Linked DNA regions of Homo sapiens: region 1 is linked to region 2. Evidence: fine-mapped expression QTL. A gene starts in region 2. The other region holds a variant in brackets. All regions are shown on one strand. Distances are between the middles of the regions.

The links.
Region 1: its variant is fine-mapped to the expression of EAPP in whole blood (INTERVAL, PIP above 0.99).

What each region holds. Positions count from the first base shown.
Region 1 is chr14:34,615,337-34,623,336 of GRCh38, reverse strand. All of the region lies in intron 2 of SNX6 (sorting nexin 6), which reads left to right. Among named protein-coding and RNA genes, the nearest start is that of SNX6, 11 kb to the left of the region's middle. The variant T/CT (reference allele first, on the strand shown) is at 4,973.
Region 2 is chr14:34,534,809-34,543,935 of GRCh38, reverse strand. EAPP (E2F associated phosphoprotein) reads left to right here and starts at 4,235. Exons shown (of 6, transcript NM_018453.4): 1 at 4,235-4,381; 2 at 7,661-7,842. The coding sequence starts at 4,308. LOC105370447 (a long non-coding RNA gene) reads right to left here and starts at 4,187. Exons shown (of 2, transcript XR_943739.1): 1 at 4,152-4,187; 2 at 2,230-3,750. It overlaps LOC112268123 (a long non-coding RNA gene), which reads left to right and starts at 482. Exons shown (of 2, transcript XR_002957583.1): 1 at 482-987; 2 at 1,947-2,702. RefSeq lists silencers at 4,058-4,157, 6,099-6,393 and enhancers at 4,298-4,457, 4,108-5,032.

The DNA of each region.
Region 1 (8,000 bases), 80 kb before region 2:
CATTGCCCAAGTACGTCTACACTTGACTGTCTGTTTTATGCATGCATTTCAGTGTTTTTTTTCCCCCTCACCTTTTCTTTCGCTTCAAATTCAACTTGAATTTGGCCCAGATGCTTGCATTTTGTTTTGCACCTGCACACTTTTTAGCTTAAACACATGCCACATTTATTGATAGTTACTTCACATAAAAATGTGACATATATTATGTTGGCTGAGGATTAAAAAGATCAATAAGACAAAGTTCCTGCCCTGAGACCATCACAGTGTAGTGAAGGAGATAGAGTTATAATCCCTTGCAATGAAGTGTATGGGAGTACAAAGTAAAAGTGTTCAACTTTAGGGGAAGGGGTAGTAGTAAAGACATAATGATAGTTACACACTTACATGCATTCACTGCATGTCAGGGACTTTCCATATAAACTCAATTCTCAAATCCCTATGAAATACACCTACTGTTATTCCTATTTGGGAAAGGAAAACTGAGTTGCAGAGACATTAAATAACTTGCCCAAGGTCATACAGCCGGTAGGAGCTGTGGTCAAATAGGCAATCTAGCTCTAGGGCCTGGCTCTTAACCACTGTGCTATTGGTCTGCTTTCCAACAGGGAGGATGGCATGTGTTGGTAATTTGGTTCCTCCTAGAGCACTTGTTCTTACTGGAGCAGAGGTTGCAAAGGTACATGCAGCTAGTACAGAGTATGTAGTGCATAGTGAAAGACTCCAGGCAGTGGGAAGTACTGAGGAATCTTTTTTTTTTTTTTTTTTTTGCTCTATTGCCCAGGCTGGAGTGCAGTGGCACGATCTCGGCTCACTGCAAGCTCCGCCTCCCGGATTCACGCCATTCTCCTGCCTCAGCGTCCCGAGTAGCTGGGACTACAGGTGCCCGCCACCACGCCCAGCTAATTTCTTTTTGTATTTTTAGTAGAGATGGGGTTTCACGGTGTTAGCCAGGAAGGTCTCGATCTCCTGACCTCGTGATCCACCCACCTCGGCCTCCCAAAGTGCTGGGATTACATGCATGAGCCACCGTGCCCGGCCAGTACTGAGGAATTTTAAGCTAGGAAAGACATGCCCAGGCCGGGTGCAGTGGCTCATGCCTATAATCCCAGCACTATGGGAGGCCGAGGTGGGCGGATCACCTGAGGTAAGGAGTTCAACACCAGCCTGGCCAACGTGACGAAACCCCAACTGTACTAAAAATACAAAAAAAATTAGCCAGGTGTGACGGTAGGTGCCTGTAATCCCAGCTACTAGGGAAACTGAGGCAGGAGAATCGCTTGAACCCAGGAGGCAGAGGTAGCAGTGAGCCAAGATCACGCCACTGCACTCCAGCCTGGGCGACAAGAGTGAAACTCCATCTCAAAAAAAAAAAAAAAAAAAAAAAAGGAAAGACATGCCCAGGTGAAAAAACATTGTAGATTATTCTAATATTGAGGATAGATTGATGCTTCCTTTCAGAAAACAAAGAAACCAGTTAACAGGCTAATGCAGCAGTCCAGATGAGAAATGACAAAGGTAGAACTAAGGCAGTGGAAGAGGGATGAAGGAAGGGATGTAGTAAAGAGATGTTTAGGAGATAGAATAGACAGGACATAGTGACTGAATAAGTAATACATGGGCTGGGCAAGGGAGAAGGAGAAAACATAGAATGTAGGAAGGAAGAACAGGGTTAGAGGTTAGGTCATAAGTCTGGTTCCACGTATGTTGGATTTAAAGTGCCTGTGAGGCATCTAACCTGCCCCCACCAAACTAGAATGTAAGATCTGTAAGGCTGAGGATTGTGTCTCTTCACTGCTGTCTCCCTAACATGTAGGACAGTGCTTGATACATTGAGGGCACTCAGTTGTTTAATAAGTGAATACATCCAGGTGGCTATGTCTAGTTGGTAACTTGAAATTCAAATTGGGAACTTAGAATAAAAAGTCTAAATTGGGGATATAATTAGGAATTATTAGTTGAGAATGGCTGATATTTCCAATATTAGCTAGCACCCAAGGGAAACCAGCATTTAAGGACCAGAGCAAAGATGATTGGTTAATGGGGCTGAGAGGGGTAGGAGGCGAATCAGAGGAGGCTTCAGAAGTTGAGAGAAGCTGACGCAGTGGCTCATGTCTATAATCCTAGCACTCTGAGAGGCTGAGGCAAGAGGATCACTTGAGCCCAGGAGTTTGAGACCAGTCTGGGGTCTGTAGAGAGATCCTCTCTCTACAAAAACTAAAAATTAACAGGGTGTGGTCACACATGCATTTAGTCCTAGCTACTTGGGAGGCTGAGGCAGGAAGATTGCTTGATCACAGGAGTTTGAGGCTGTAATGAGCTATGATTGTACCACTGCATTCCAGCCTGGGTGACAGAGTGAGACGCCCGTCACCATTTTTTATTTTTTATTTTTTTTTTGAGGGAGTCTCACTTTATCACCCAGGTTGGAGTGCAGTGGCACCATCTCAATTCACTGCAACTTCTCCCTCCCGGATTTAAGCAGTTTCTTGTGTCTCAGCTTCCTGAGTAGCTGGGATTACAGGCATGCACCACCACGCCCAACTAATTTTTGTATTTTTAGTAGACACAGGGTTTCGCTATGTTGCCCAGGCTGGTCTCAAACTCCTGGCCTCAAGTGATCCTCCTGCCTCAGCCTCCCAAAGTGCTGAGATTACAGGCGTGAGCCACCATGCCCGGCCCCATGTCCAGTTTTAAAAATAATGATTTTTTTGTTTTAAAGGTTGAGATAGTTTTAAGAAAGGAGTGGTCAGAATGATACCAAGGCAGAATACTGCATAGAGGCCAAGAAGACTGAAAAATATCATTGGTTTGGAAATTAGGTACTCATGTAAAGAATTTTGTTTTTGTTTTTGTTTTTTGACATAGTCTTGCTCTGTTGCCCAGGCTGGCATGTAGTGGCACCATCACAGCTCACTGCAGCCTCGACCTCCTGGGGCTCAAGTGATCCTCCCACCTCAGCTTCCCAAGTAGCTGGGACTACAGGCGTGTGCCACCATGACCAGCTGTGAGGCAAAATTTATTTGTAAAAAGATGTGTTGGTGGGCCTGAGAGAATAAACAGCTGCTGGCATTTATTTCTCTGGGCTGGAGGAGGCAAGTTCACTTGTTGAGGGTGGGGTGTAATGTGGTAGTAAAAGTTGGAATTGTTGCTGCAGGGAATCAAAAGAGGAGCTGAGCAGAGTTGCACAGGACTGGACTGCTGAGTGGTTTTCAAAGAGCATATGCAATTTGGAGACCATTAATTTGAAATGGAACAGTACAAACAATGGTGACTTTTCTCTAGCCATACTCAGCAGCCCAAATGTAAAAGTTGACGATTATATTGATCTTGAGGTCAGGTGGCTCATGCCTGTAATCCCAGCATTTGAGAGGCTAAGGTGGGAGGATCGCTTGAGCCCAGGAGTTCAAGTCTAGCTTGGGCAGCATAGTGAGACCTCATCTCTATAAAAAAATAAATAAATAAAAGATAAGTAGATCCTGAGTATGGGAATTTGTGAGCCAGGTATGGTAAAAGAGCAGTGAGAGTTGAAGGGACCAGCAGGAAAGGTATTGGAATGGCATTCATGGAGTGAAGCAGAGGGAGTGCCGACAGACTGGAAATAAATGGAAAGGTCACAGGACTGGAGGTGTTGATGAGGTTACATTGTACATGTGGTAAAAGTGGTGGGGAGAAAGCAGGAAGCAGTTAATTTTATATTACATAAGATTGATTGTCTTCCTCATTGCAAACAGATTTCTTGAAGGCAGGGCTTTTTGTTCACTTTAAATCTTTCACAATACCTGGGACAGTGTTTGCGTATAAGTGCTGAAAAAAAAGTTTATTAAATAGCCGCATATTACTGTATTGCCTAGTGTTTATATTTATTCTATCTCTCTCTCTCTCTCTCTCTCTAAATATATATATATATATTTTTTTGAGACAGAGTTGTGTTCTGTTACCGAGGCTGGAGTGCAGTGGTGCGATATCAGCTCACTGCAACCTCCACCTCCTGGGTTCAAGTGATCCTTCTGCCTCAGCCTCCCAAGTAGCAGGGACTACAGGCATGCACCACTGCACCCAGCTAATTTTTGTATTTTTAGTAGAGATGGGGTTTCACCATGTTGGCCAGGCTGGTCTCAGACTCCTGACCTTGTGATCTGCCCACCTTGGCCTCCCAAAGTGTTGGGATTACAGGCATAAGCCACTGCGCCTGGCCAATCAAATTTTACTTCTATCATGGGGTTTTTAATTGATCATACTGTAATTACCTGAAAATAGTTTTGTAGCCCAGTTGTGGTTACCACCTTTCTTTCTTTCCTCTTCCCTCCTTTACATTCCACAAATATTTGTCGAGAACTTCCATTGGGAATGTAGCAATGAATAAAACAGACAAAAACCCATGTCTTCATGGAGCTGAATTACAGTCATGAAGAGACATTTTTAAAAAGTAAAGTATATTAGGTTTTGAATAGGCATTATGAAGAAAAATGAGGGAGGAGTAGGGATTTTTGGGCTGGGAGGGGAGGATGGTTTGAGCTGCACTTTTAGATAGGGTGGCTAGGAAAGGCCTTCCTGAGGAAGACTTAAGGACTTGAAGGAAGTGAGCTGTGCAGATACGTATCTGGGGGCAGAGTGTTCCAGGCAGAGGGAACCAGCGGTTGCAAAGACTCCCTGAGACGGCAGCATGTTTGTGTGTTCAAAAAACGAGGGCCAGGTGCAGTGGCTCATGCCTGTAATCCCAGCACTTGAGAGGCCAAGGTGGGTGGATCACCTGAGGTTGGGAGTTCGAGACCAGCCTGGCCAAGATGGTGAAACCTTGTCTCTACTAAAAATACAAAAATTAGCTGGGCATGGTGTCGCACGTCTGTAATTCCAGCTACTAGGGAGGCTGAGGCAGGAGAATTGCTTGAATCAGAAAGGCAGAGGTTGCAGTGAGCTGAGATCACACCACTGTACTCCAGCCTTGGCGACAGAGCAAGACTCCATCCCCCCC[T/CT]CCCCAAAAAGGAGGCCACATGGCAGGACTATAGTGAGCCAGAGGAGTGGTAAATTAGATGATATCAGATGGAGATTTTATAGTGCCTGGTAGGCCACTGTAAGGTATTCAGCTTTTCTTCAAGTGGAAACTCCTTAGATTTTAAGCAGAGAAATGATTTCTAGTTTAATGATATCATAGTAGTGGCCCTGTAGGGAATAAATTTATGAGGGGCAAGGGCTGAAGTAAGAGATCAGTTGGGAGACTATTGTAAGAGTCAAAGTTATTTTCTTTCTTCCTTCCTCTTTGCCCCATCCCATCCACTCATCCATCTCTCTACATTTGCTTTGCTGTCAAAATATGAACAACTGACGTCTTAGGGATGTTCTAAGCTAGATACTTCATAGTACACTAGTCAGTATAGTAACTAGTAGTGAATGTCTTCCTAAGTCTTTTTTTTTTTTTTGGAGGCAGTCTTGCTCTGTCCCCCAGGCTGGAGTGCAGTGGTGCAATCTTGGCTCACTGCAAGCTCTGCCTCCTGGGTTCAAGTGATTCTGCTGCCTCAGCCTCCCAAGTAGCTGGGACTACAGGTGCCCGCCACCACGCCCGGCTTATTTTTTGTATTTTTAGTAGAGACGGGGTTTCACCGTGTTAGCCAGGATGGTCTTGATCCCCTGACCTCGTGATCCGCCTGCCTCAGCCTCCCAAAGTGCTGGGATTACAGGCGTGAGCCACCGCGCCTGGTCCAAGTCTTTTTTTTTTTTTTTTTTTTTTTTTTGAGACAGGGTCTCACTCTGTCACCCAGGCTGGAATGCAGTGGCACAATCACAGCCCACGGCAGCCTCAGTCCCCTGAGTAGCTGGGACCACAGATGTGCACCATTACACCCAGCTAATTTTTAAATTTTTTGTGGAGACACGATCTCACTATGTTACCCATGCTGGTCTCGAACTCCTGACCACAAGTGATCCTTCTGCCTTGGCCTCCCAACGTACTGGTATTATAGGCATAAGCTACTGTGCCCAGCCTTTTACTAAGTAATTATATGTGGAACAACAGGTCACAGGTCAGAGTCTTTAAATTGTTCTTCTAATGATAGTACATTTATGTTACTTAATCCATATTTTTTTGTCATAATCTTTCTCTTGACCAGCGACACACATGTTTAACCTAGCCTCTGACAAAAGACAGTCCAATCAATGTGTATTGTTCCAGAAAAAGATTAAGCCATTGAATGTAATCTAATTAGAAATTTCTTCAAACTGAACTCACTAGTTACAGAAAGTTGATTAAATTTTTTTAACCCGAGACAGTCTTGCTCTCTTGACCAGGCTGGAGTGCAGTGGTGCGATCTCGGCTCACTGCAGCCTCCGCCTCCTGGATTCAAGCAATTCTCCTGCCTCAGCCTCCTGAGTAGCTGGGATTACAGGCGCCCACACCACGCCCAGCTAATTTTTTTTTTCTTTTTTATATTTTTAGTAGAAACAAGGTTTCACCATGTTGGCCAGGCTGGTCTCAAATTCCTGACTTTGTGATCCTCCCTCTTCGGCCTCCCAAAGTGCTGGGATGCCAGGCATGAGCCACCACACCCAGCCGATTAAATTTTTATGAAACACAAGTTGTTTGCTTGACTCCGGTCCTTAATAAAACCCTCTAAAATGATTGACTTTTTGCTAAACTGAGAAGAAAATCTGCCTGGACAATTTGTGTACATTTTATGTAATGAACACTAAATCTCACACCTGTAATACCAGTGGTTCGGGAAGCCAAACGGGGTCAGGAGGTGGATCACTTGAACCCACGAGCTCAAGACCAGCCTGGGCAACATGGTGAGATCCCATCTCAAAAATTAGCTGGGCATGGTGATGTGTGCCTGTAGTCCCAGCTACCTGGAAGGCTGAGATGGAATGATCGCTTGATCCCAGGAGTTCAAGGTTAAAATGAGCTATGATTGTGCCACCGCATTCCAACCTGGGTAGCAGTGCAAGACTCTGTCTCTTTAAAATTAAAAAATCTACAATATATTTTATCAGATTTAAGGTGCAGTTGATTGAAAGACTTTTATGTACCACTAAGGAAAAAAAAATGTTGCTAGTTAAATTGTAATTTGTCATCAATTGAAAGACATTCCTGGCTGGGCATGGTGGCTCACACCTGTAATCCCAGCACTTTGGGAGGCTGAAGCAGGTGGATCATGAGGTCAGGGGATCAAGACCATCCTGGCCAACATTGTGAAACCCCCTCTCTACTAAAAATACAAAAATTAGCTGGGTGTGGTGGCACATGCCTGTAATCCCAGCTACTCAGGAGGCTGAGGCAAGAGAATCACTTGAACCCTGGAGGTGGAGATTGCAGTGAGCCAAGATCACGCCACTGCACTCCAGCCTGGTGACAGGGCGGGACTCTGCCTCAAAAAAATAAAAATAAAAAAGGACATTCCTATTTCAGATATGTTATAAAAAATATGCATCTAGAATTGATGAACCATGATAGCATGTTAACTTTTCAGTGATATTTTATACTGATGGTGGGGGGTGATTTTATTTTGGGGACTGGCTTTTCCATTATACATCTTGTTTATTAGAAATAGGACTTAGGCCAGTCATAAGTCCTATTACAGGCTCACGCCTGTAATCCTAACACTTTGGGAGGCCGAGGACGGAGGGGATTGCTTAAGCCAGGAGTTTGACAGTAGAGTGAGCAATGATTGCACCGCTGCACTCCAGCCTGGGCAACACAGCGAGACTCTGTCTCAAGGGGAAAAAAAAAGAAAAGGAGAAGACAAATGGTAGATTGAGTTAATAGCTCTTAAGGCAATATATAAATGGATAACATGCTTTAATAAGGTATACAAGAGAGAATTTAGCCAGGTGCGGTGGCTTACGCCTATAATCCCAGCACTTTGGGAGGCCGAGGTGGGAGAATCACTTAAGCCCAGGAGGTCGAGAACAGCCTGAGCAACATAGGGAGACCCTATCTCTTAAAAAATAATAATAATTAGCCAGATGTGGTGGTGTACACCTGTGGTCCCAATTGCTTAGGAGGCTGA
Region 2 (9,127 bases):
GACTACAGGTGCTCGCCACCACGCCTGGCTAATTTTTGTGTTTTCAGTAGAGACGGGGGTTTCACCATATTGGCCAGGATGGTCTCCATCTCCTGACCTCGTGATTTGCCCTCCTCGGCCTCCCAAAGTGCTGGGATTACAGGTGTGAGCCACCGCACCCGGCCTCTCATGTAAAATAATTAAAAAAAAAAAAATTCTGGGCCGGGCGCGGTGGCTGACGCCTGTAATCCCAGCACTTTGGGAGGCCAAGGCGGGCGGATAACCTGAGGTCAGGAGCTCAAGACCAGCCTGGCCAACATGGTGAAACCCCGTCTCTACTAAAAAATACAAAAATTAGCTGGGCATGATGGCGGGTTCCTGTAATCCCAGCTACTCCGGAGGCTGAGGCGGGAGAAAAACTTGAACCCAGGAGGCGGAGGTTGTAATGAGCCGAGATCGCGACATTGCACTCCAGCCTGGACGACAGAGTGAGACTCCGTCACAAAAAACAAAAAACAAAACAAGAACCAAAAAAAACACATAAAAAACAAACAACAACAACAACAAACGAAACCTCTAATCACAGGTCAGTTTTACTGTTTCTCAGGTCCAGACTCGTTCTGTGCTGTTGGCAGGGTATCCTGCAGTGGCCACTCCTGTCTTACTAACAGACCCTGATTTTGTCCACAGGATCAACACACCCAGCTAAAACAGCTCAACTTCCTCATCACACAACACAGTTCTGGCCAGTTAGACACACGTCCCCGGAAAGGGCATCTCCAGGAGAATAAAAAGGCCAAGCCACTTTTTGAAGAAAGTCTTTGTCCCTACCCCCTTTTTCTACCTGGAAGTCAGACTCAGGCCTGGAGTGTAGCGGCCGCCTTGGTACCTGGAAGCAACAATCATGGCCGGGAGACCTTACACCTGGCATGGTAGAGCAGACGGAGGAGGGGCCGCCTGGTGAATAGCCTGGCCAACAGCCCCAAACTGCTACCCCTTAAATTCTGGGTAGGTGAGAAAAATAAGTCCTGTCTAAGCTGCTCATTGTTTTAGTTACCTGTAGCCAAAGTTAAATCCTGCCTAAAAGGGTTCTCCCCTCATTTTTATATTACATGCCATTTTTTATTTTATTTTATTTTATTTTATTTTATTTTATTTTATTTATTTAGAGACAGAGTTTCGCTCTTGTTGCCCAGCCTGGAATGCAATGGCGCGATCTTGGCTCACTACAGCCTCTGCCTCCCAGGTTCAAGTGATTCTCCTGCCTCAGCCTCCCGAGTAGCTGGGATTACACGCACCCGCCACCACGCCCAGCTAATTCTTTTTTTTTTTTTGAGCCGGAGTCTCGCTCTGTCGTCCAGGTTGGAGTGCAGTGGCGCAATCTCAGCTCACTGCAAGCTCCACCTCCCGGGTTCACGCCATCCTCCTGCCTCAGCCTCCCGAGTAGCTGGGACTACAGGTGCCCGCCACTGCGCCTGGCTAATTTTTTGTATTTTTAGTAGAGACGGGGTTTCACCGTGTTAGCCAGGACGGTCTTGATCTCCTGACCTCGTGATCCGCCCGCCTTGGCCTCCCAAGGTGCTGGGATCACAGGCGTGAGCCACCACGCCCAGCCAAAAAGTTGTTTTAAAATTTTTTCGAGAGATAGGATCTCGCTTAGTTGCCCAGGCTGGTCTTGAACTCCTGGGCTCAAGCAATCTTCCCACTTTGGACCCCCACAGTGCTGGGATTACAGGGGTAAGCCACCACACCCAACCTCAATCTTCTTGTGATCTGTTATGTTGACAACCAAGACAGCTACTTAGTGGTTGGTTGATGGGTGGACAGTGTATACAGCATGGACACACTGGACAGAGGCATGACTCAATGTTCCAGGTAGGACGGCAACAGATTTCATCACGCTACTCAGAACAGCACAACATTTAAGACATAAATTGTTTCTGGAGTTTTTCATTTAGTATTTTCAGATTTCAGGTGACTGCTGTAACTTGAAGCAAGAAAAGTGAAACTACAGAAAAGGGAGGACCACTGGACGGCTGCTTTCATTCTACGCCCACTTTTTAGAGTGCATTCCTACAATAAGCACCCTAATAATGTAAACCAGGGGCCAAGGGATGCACCTTCCACTCTACTTCCTTCCCCAGAAAAGACCACCTTGGTAAATACAGAATGGCAAACGGTTAAGTGAAACACTGTATAGCTTCTGGCCCTATACTTAGTATTTCTTAACATTTACACAGCATTTTCACATTTCCAAAGCAGAGTACCAACATTTATTAATCCTCACAACACCCCTGTGAGGTAGGTCAGTATGTCCTTTAGAGTCGAGAACTGAGGCAGAGGTCAAGCAAACCTGCCCTGGGCCACAGAGCAGCAGATGAAGGGCCTAGACCTGGATCCAGAAGCTAGGGCTCTCGGTCCAGCATTCATCCACTGGTGGACATCACATGGGCTTATTTTTACCAGCGAAGGTTACGTGAAGGACAAAACGCACTCAGCCAGCAACGGAAACTCAACAGTTCAAACAGCACTGGGGAACATGTCAGTTAAAGAGACGAAACGCTGACCAGCTCATGAATGAGGCAAGACAACATGCGGCTGAGGAAGTGTGGAATCATCACGACTGGGGATTAGACCAAGAACGGGCGCTCAGGAGGGTTCAGGAAAATGTAAACAAACTAGGAACCCATCCAAGGGGTGACAGGCCCAAATGCCTACGGTCTCCAAATGGTAGAAAAATTAGAAAAAGATAGTGGAAAAATCCAACCACGCAACCTTAACTTTAAACTAGGAATGACAATAATGTGTCTAATGTTCATTCACACTAGAAAGGCCGATAATGTTTGTAATATAACTACTGGCGATAGTATCCTATTTGTATGCCAACTTTCATCTCAAGTATTCTGCTTTTCTTTCCCCACAGACAAACAAGTGTTGTTCTTTACAGCAGACCTCTTTCCCTCTACATACCAATCTATCCACTCGCATAACTACTAAGTGGCTCAATGGCCTATGTCTCATGCTTAATTGGCTGAGCTAGGCGCGGAATCCGGGAAACCACAACAGACTGTACTCTGCTCCTGTATTTCAGGAATAACTGTCACTAACCTGCTTCTGTCCGATTCCACCTTCTATGAAGTACACACAGAGGAGCAGTTCATTCTTTTGTAAAGGGATTGGTGGACTTTGTTCGAGATGCCATTTCAAAAGAAATGAGAAAAAAGAAAAACTAAGACCTGCACTGTAAAGCATAATACAGGAGTAGATTTATTACAGCTACTCCACATTTTAGAGAGTGCCACAGTGTCTCGGTAGGAGGCAGGAACCCGAGTTCCTGGTTCAGAAACAGGGTTAGAAACAGTCTCCCGATGGAGCTCAAGTGGCTGTCATCTGCCTGTTCTCCTCAGGTATCGAGTGGGATCAGTTGAGGGCTGAGCAAAAGTGGGGACTGGGAAGATGACGAGAAAAGATAACTTTTCGTAGATTGTTGAGGCCGCAGTCAGACTGAGGAGTGAACAGTGTGAAGGAGAGGTTGAGAGCCTCATGGTGTGGAAGGCATAAGGGTTAGAGGCGAGGTTGGAGGGATGTGGGTGCTGGTGTCTGAGGACTTATTGGATTTCGGGCTGTGTGTCCCTCAGCGTCTAGATTCCTGCTTCGTAGGTGATGAGACGCTGCATGTAGCATGTTCACCTCAGAGACTGTCACTTATGAGGGTGCCCATCATTATTATTTTTGGTGACAAGGTAGCTGCTATTTTCCTGTAAGCAGAAGCTGCGGAAGAAAATGGTGGGATTGGCCGGGAGCGGTGGCTCACGCCTGTAATCCCAGCATTTTGGAAGGTCGAGGTGGGCGGATCACCTGAGGTCCGGAGTTCGAGACCAGCCTCAACATGGAGAAACCCCCGTCTCTACTAAAAATACAAAATTAGCCGGGCGTGGTGGTGTATGCCTGTAATCCCAGCTACTCGGGAGGCTGCGGTAGGAGAATTGCTTGAACCTGGGAGGCGGAGGTTGCGGTGAGCCGAGATCGCGCCATTGCACTCCAGCCTGGGCAACAAGAGCGAAACTCCGTCTCCAAAAAACAAAACAAAACAAAAATGGTGGGATTAAGACCCGCCCCCGTCCCGTCCCCGCCCCTTTTCGCTCCTGCTCCGCCCCTTCCCCGCCTTCTACCTGCCTCCCTCGGTGCTGTCGGTCTGCGCGGGCGCGCAAGGGGGACTGGGACGTTCAGGCGGAAGTGGCGTCAGGGGCGCTTTAGGGACTGGACTTGCAGTGTAAACAGAGACGCTGCAAATTGCTTGTGGACGGTGTAGGCCGCTGCAGGCCACCATGAACCGGCTTCCGGATGACTACGACCCCTACGCGGTTGAAGAGCCTAGCGACGAGGAGCCGGCTTTGAGCAGGTGGGCTCCCGCCCCACCCTGGCCCCCGAGGATTTGGGTCGAGGCCTGGCTTTGGTCGCCTCCATTCGTTGCGCCTGCCGAGCCTACGCAGACCCTAGCGGCTCGGGAGCCTGTCGTGCCTGTTACTTGTGCGAAGCCAAAGGGCTTTCCTGATGGGGTCGCGCAGTCCCGGGGGGAGGCGGTGCCGATGTCGCCTGTAGGAAGAGGGATATTCCGGAATCACGGGGGACCGCGTGTAAATCTTCAAAAGCAATGAGATCGAAACCTGTCTCTACACCTTAGTAGCAGAGTGACGGAAGGCAAGTCAGTTATCCTCGATTACTCACCTGTAAAATTGAACTATAATAACATAATTGTATAACCTATATAACATAGTATAACACACTATGTTTGTTGTGAGGCTCACAGGACTTAATGTGAAGTGTCCATCTTGAAGACTAAACTGCCATAAACAGAAATAAGGGAATATTGAACAGCCTTTTTTATTTTTATTTTTTGACAGGGACTGTTGTATGCTCGCTCTGAGCTACAGAGATAAATCATAAGGTCCTTGTCTTCCAGAGGCTTATAGTATAATAAGGGTAATAAGATAAAGTATATATTTCTTGGCAGAGCATTGTAGAGAATATTGACCTGAGATAGGCACAGAAGAAGGTTCGTGGGATTTCCAGAAGGGTGGGCTTTATTCTACCAGGGAAACTTGAAGCTGTTTTGCCGAGATATTTCCACACAAATTTAGTTATTTCTTAAGCTGTCAGCAGATCCTATTCTTAAACTTTAAAACATTCATTCTGCCTAAAGAAGCTTTCTGTAAAGCCATGCTTTCATTAACAACTTTGGCTGGGTGTGGTGGCCCATGCCTGTAATCCCAGGACTTTGGGAGTCTGAGGCGAGAGAATCTCTTAAGCCTGGTAGTAAAGGAACAGCCTGGGCAACATAGTGAGACCTCATTTCTTAAAAAAAAAAAAAATCAAAAGAACAATGTTTCCTCATATTGTCATGGGGAGACATTGGATGCATGGGAAATCAGACTGCTGTTAAGATTTCTTTTGTTGGGAGTGAGGATAGATACCAGGATTCCCTGTGAAAAAGAGTTTCAGTTAATGGGTCCTGTCTGTGAAAGGAGGTATGTATATATGTATGTCTCAATTATTTATTTATTTATTTATTTATTTTGAGACAGAGTCTCACTCTGTCAGCCAGGCTGGAGTGCACTGGTGCAATCTTGGCTCACTGTAGCCTCCACCTCCTGGGTTCCAGCAATTCTCCTGCCTCAGCCTCCTGGGTAGCTGGGATTACAGGCATGCGCTACCACACCTGGCTTATTTTTTGTATTTTTCGTAGAGATGGGTTTTCACCACGTTGGCCAGGCTGGTCTTGAACTCCTGACCTTAGGCAATCTGCCTGCGTCGGGCTCCCAAAGTGCTAGGATTACAGGCCTGAGCCACGGAGCCAGGACTGTTGTATCATTTTTTTAAGGAAGCTTTATAATTCTGTGACAGTTGCCACTGGTAAGGTAACTGTAAAGATAAATATTATAAAAACAAAACAATGTTATCAGACAGTATTGCCTGTTGTAGGCTCTGAGCCAAATGGTTATTATTTTAAAAAGGGAGATTAGTGTTAGAGAGGTGTCTGTCAGTATTTAATTTTACACTGTTTATAAACTAATACATTGTAGCCTGTTAACTGTTTCACGGTAGCTGACCGAAGACATGAGACTCCTGGGTCAAAGATAAGACTACACATAGCACAGCAAGCAGCATGAGCATCATGTTTGTGTGGCTTGCTCTTGCTTGTCAACCCTACAGGTATTACGCTGAGGGTCCTAGAAGAATGCTGCACATTCAGTGGGTTGGCATCGTGGCTAAAGACTACTTGAGCTTGGAGAATCCACCTCTTTCATAGAAGACAGTAAATACATCTGCTCTTTGTCCTGGAAGGAGACATTATCTCATTCCTCAAGGTTGTTGTTCGCTGCAAACACAATCCTGAGAAATGGCTGGAGTGAACAGTGGTCAGAACCTTGCATTCTTGGCATACTTAACTTGCATATCTAGGGTCCATGATGTATGACTGCCTTTCTCAGCAGTGCTGAAAACTGAGACTTTGGTTGAGATAATGACAAGGATTGAAGAAAATTTGTAGAAAAAATAGCTCTCACTTTGTGATTCAGTTTTTAAAAATTAAACATTTTATTTTGAAGTTTTCGTAGATTCACATTCAGTTATAAGAAATAATACAGGTCTGGTGCAGTGGCTCACATCTGTAATCCCAGCACTTTGGAAGGCCAAGGCAGGAGAATCACTTGAGCTCAAGAGTTCAAGACCAGCCTGAGCAACATGATGAAATCATGTCTTTACTGAAAATACAAAAAATTAGCTGGTATGGTGGTGCATATCTGTGGTCCCAGCTACTCAGGAGGGTGAGGCGGTTGGTTGGCTTGAGCCTGGGAGGCGGAAGTTTCAGTGAGCCAAGATGGCACCATTGCACTCCAGCCTGGGCAACACAGGGAGACCCCCATCTCAAAAAATAAAAAATAATAAAAAAAAAAGAAATAATACAGAGAGATCCTGTGTACTCTTTCCCCAGTTTCCTCCAGTGTTAACATACTACAAAACTATAGTGCAGTATCACAACCAGGATATCTATCTATCTATATATCTATCTATGTATTTTTTGAGACGGATTCTGAATCCTGTAATCCCAGCTACTTGGGAGACTGAGGCAGGAGAATCGCTTGAGCCCAGGAGGTGGAGGTTGCGGTGAGCAGAAATCATGCCACTGTACTACAGCCTGGGCGACAAGAGCGAGACTCTGTTTCAAAAGAAACAAACAAACAAACAAACAAAAAAACCATCCTGGGCAACATGGCGAAACCCCATTTCGACAAAAATTAAACAAAACAAAACAAAACAAAAAAACAGCTGGGAATGGTGGTATGTGCCTGTAGTTCCAGCTACTGGGGAACCCGAGGTGGGAGGATTGCTTGAACTGGGGAGGTGGAGGTTGCAGTGAGCTGAGATCATGCCACTGCACTCCAGGTTGGGTCACAGACTGAGATGCCATCTCAAAAAAAAAAAAAAAAAAAAAAAATTAAAGAAGATTGGAAATATGCAGAACTGGCTTATTAAGTGAGAATAGCTATATGTAATGTATAAGTACATCAAATGTAACCATGTAATACTTAAAATTGTTGTTGGACAGTGAGATGCTGGGAGTTTAAAATTATTTTAATTTTTAAATATTCATATTCTTTTTGATTTAAATGTATGCTAGCTCTGAGGATGAAGTGGATGTGCTTTTACATGGAACTCCTGACCAAAAACGAAAACTCATCAGAGAATGTCTTACCGGAGAAAGTGAATCATCTAGTGAAGATGAATTTGAAAAGGAGATGGAAGCTGAATTAAATTCTACCATGAAAACAATGGAGGACAAGTTATCCTCTCTGGGAACTGGTAAACTTTTGGTTCAATTTTATATATATTTTTGTAAGCTCTGTAAGGGCAGGAACCTTATTTGTGCTCTTCTATGTTCCCAGCACTTTCAGTAGGTGCTCAATAAATATTTATTGAATGAAGGAGTGAATGTATTTGGCAGTCTGAGCTAGAGTCTTCCTTTTCTCATTTAAAAAAGTTATTTATTTATTACTTTAGATTCAATGTCTCATTCTGTTACCCAGGCTGGAGTGCAGTGGCATGATCATAGCTCACTGTAGCCTAAAACTCCTGGGCTCAAATGATCTTCCCACCTCCGTTTCTTGAATAACTGAGATTACAGGCATGTACCACTGTGCCCAGATAATTAAAAAAAAAATTTGGGCCGGGCACGGTGGCTCACGACTGTAATCCTAGCACTTTGGGAGGCCGAGGCGGGCGGATCACGAGGTCAGGAGATTGAGACCATCCTGGCTAACACGGTGAAACCCTGTGTCTACTAAAAATACAAAAAATTAGCCGGGCGTGGTGGCAGGCGCCTGTAGTCCCAGCTACTCGGGAGGCTGAGGCAGGAGAATGGCATGAACCCAGGAGACGGAGCTTGCAGTGAGCTGAGATCACGCCACTGCACTCCAGCCTGAGCGACAGAGCGAGACTCCATCTAAAAAAAAAAAAAATCTGTAGCGACCGGGTGCAGTGGCTCACACCTGTAATCCTAGCACTTTGGGAGGCCGAGGTGGGTGGATCACCTGAGGTCAGGAGTTCGAGACCAGTCTGGCCACCATGGCGAAACCCCGTCTCTACTAAAAATACAAAAATTAGTTGGGTGTGGTGGCACGTGCCTGCAGTCCCAGCTACTTGGGAGGCCGAGGCAGGAGAATTGCTTGAACCCGGAAGGCGGAGGTTGCAGTGAGCTGAGATCGCGGCACTGCACCCCAGCCAGGGCAACAGAGTGAGACTCCGTCTCAAAAAAAAAAAAGGCCAGGCGTGGTGGCTCATGCTTGTAATCCCAGCACTTTGGGAGGCCGAGGCAGTGGATCACGAGGTCAGGAGTTTGAGACCAGCCTGGCCAATACAGTGAAACCCCATCTCTACTAAAAATACAAAAATTAGCTGGGCTTGGTGGCACGTGCCTGCAGTCCGAGCTACTCAGGAGGCCAGGCAGGAGAATCGCTTAAACCCGGGAGGCAGAGGTTGCAGTGAGCCGAGATTGTGCCATTGCACTCCAGCCTGGGTGACAGAGCTAGACTCCGTCTCAAAAAAAAAAAAAAAAATTTGTGGAGACAGGGTCTCACTATGTTGCCCA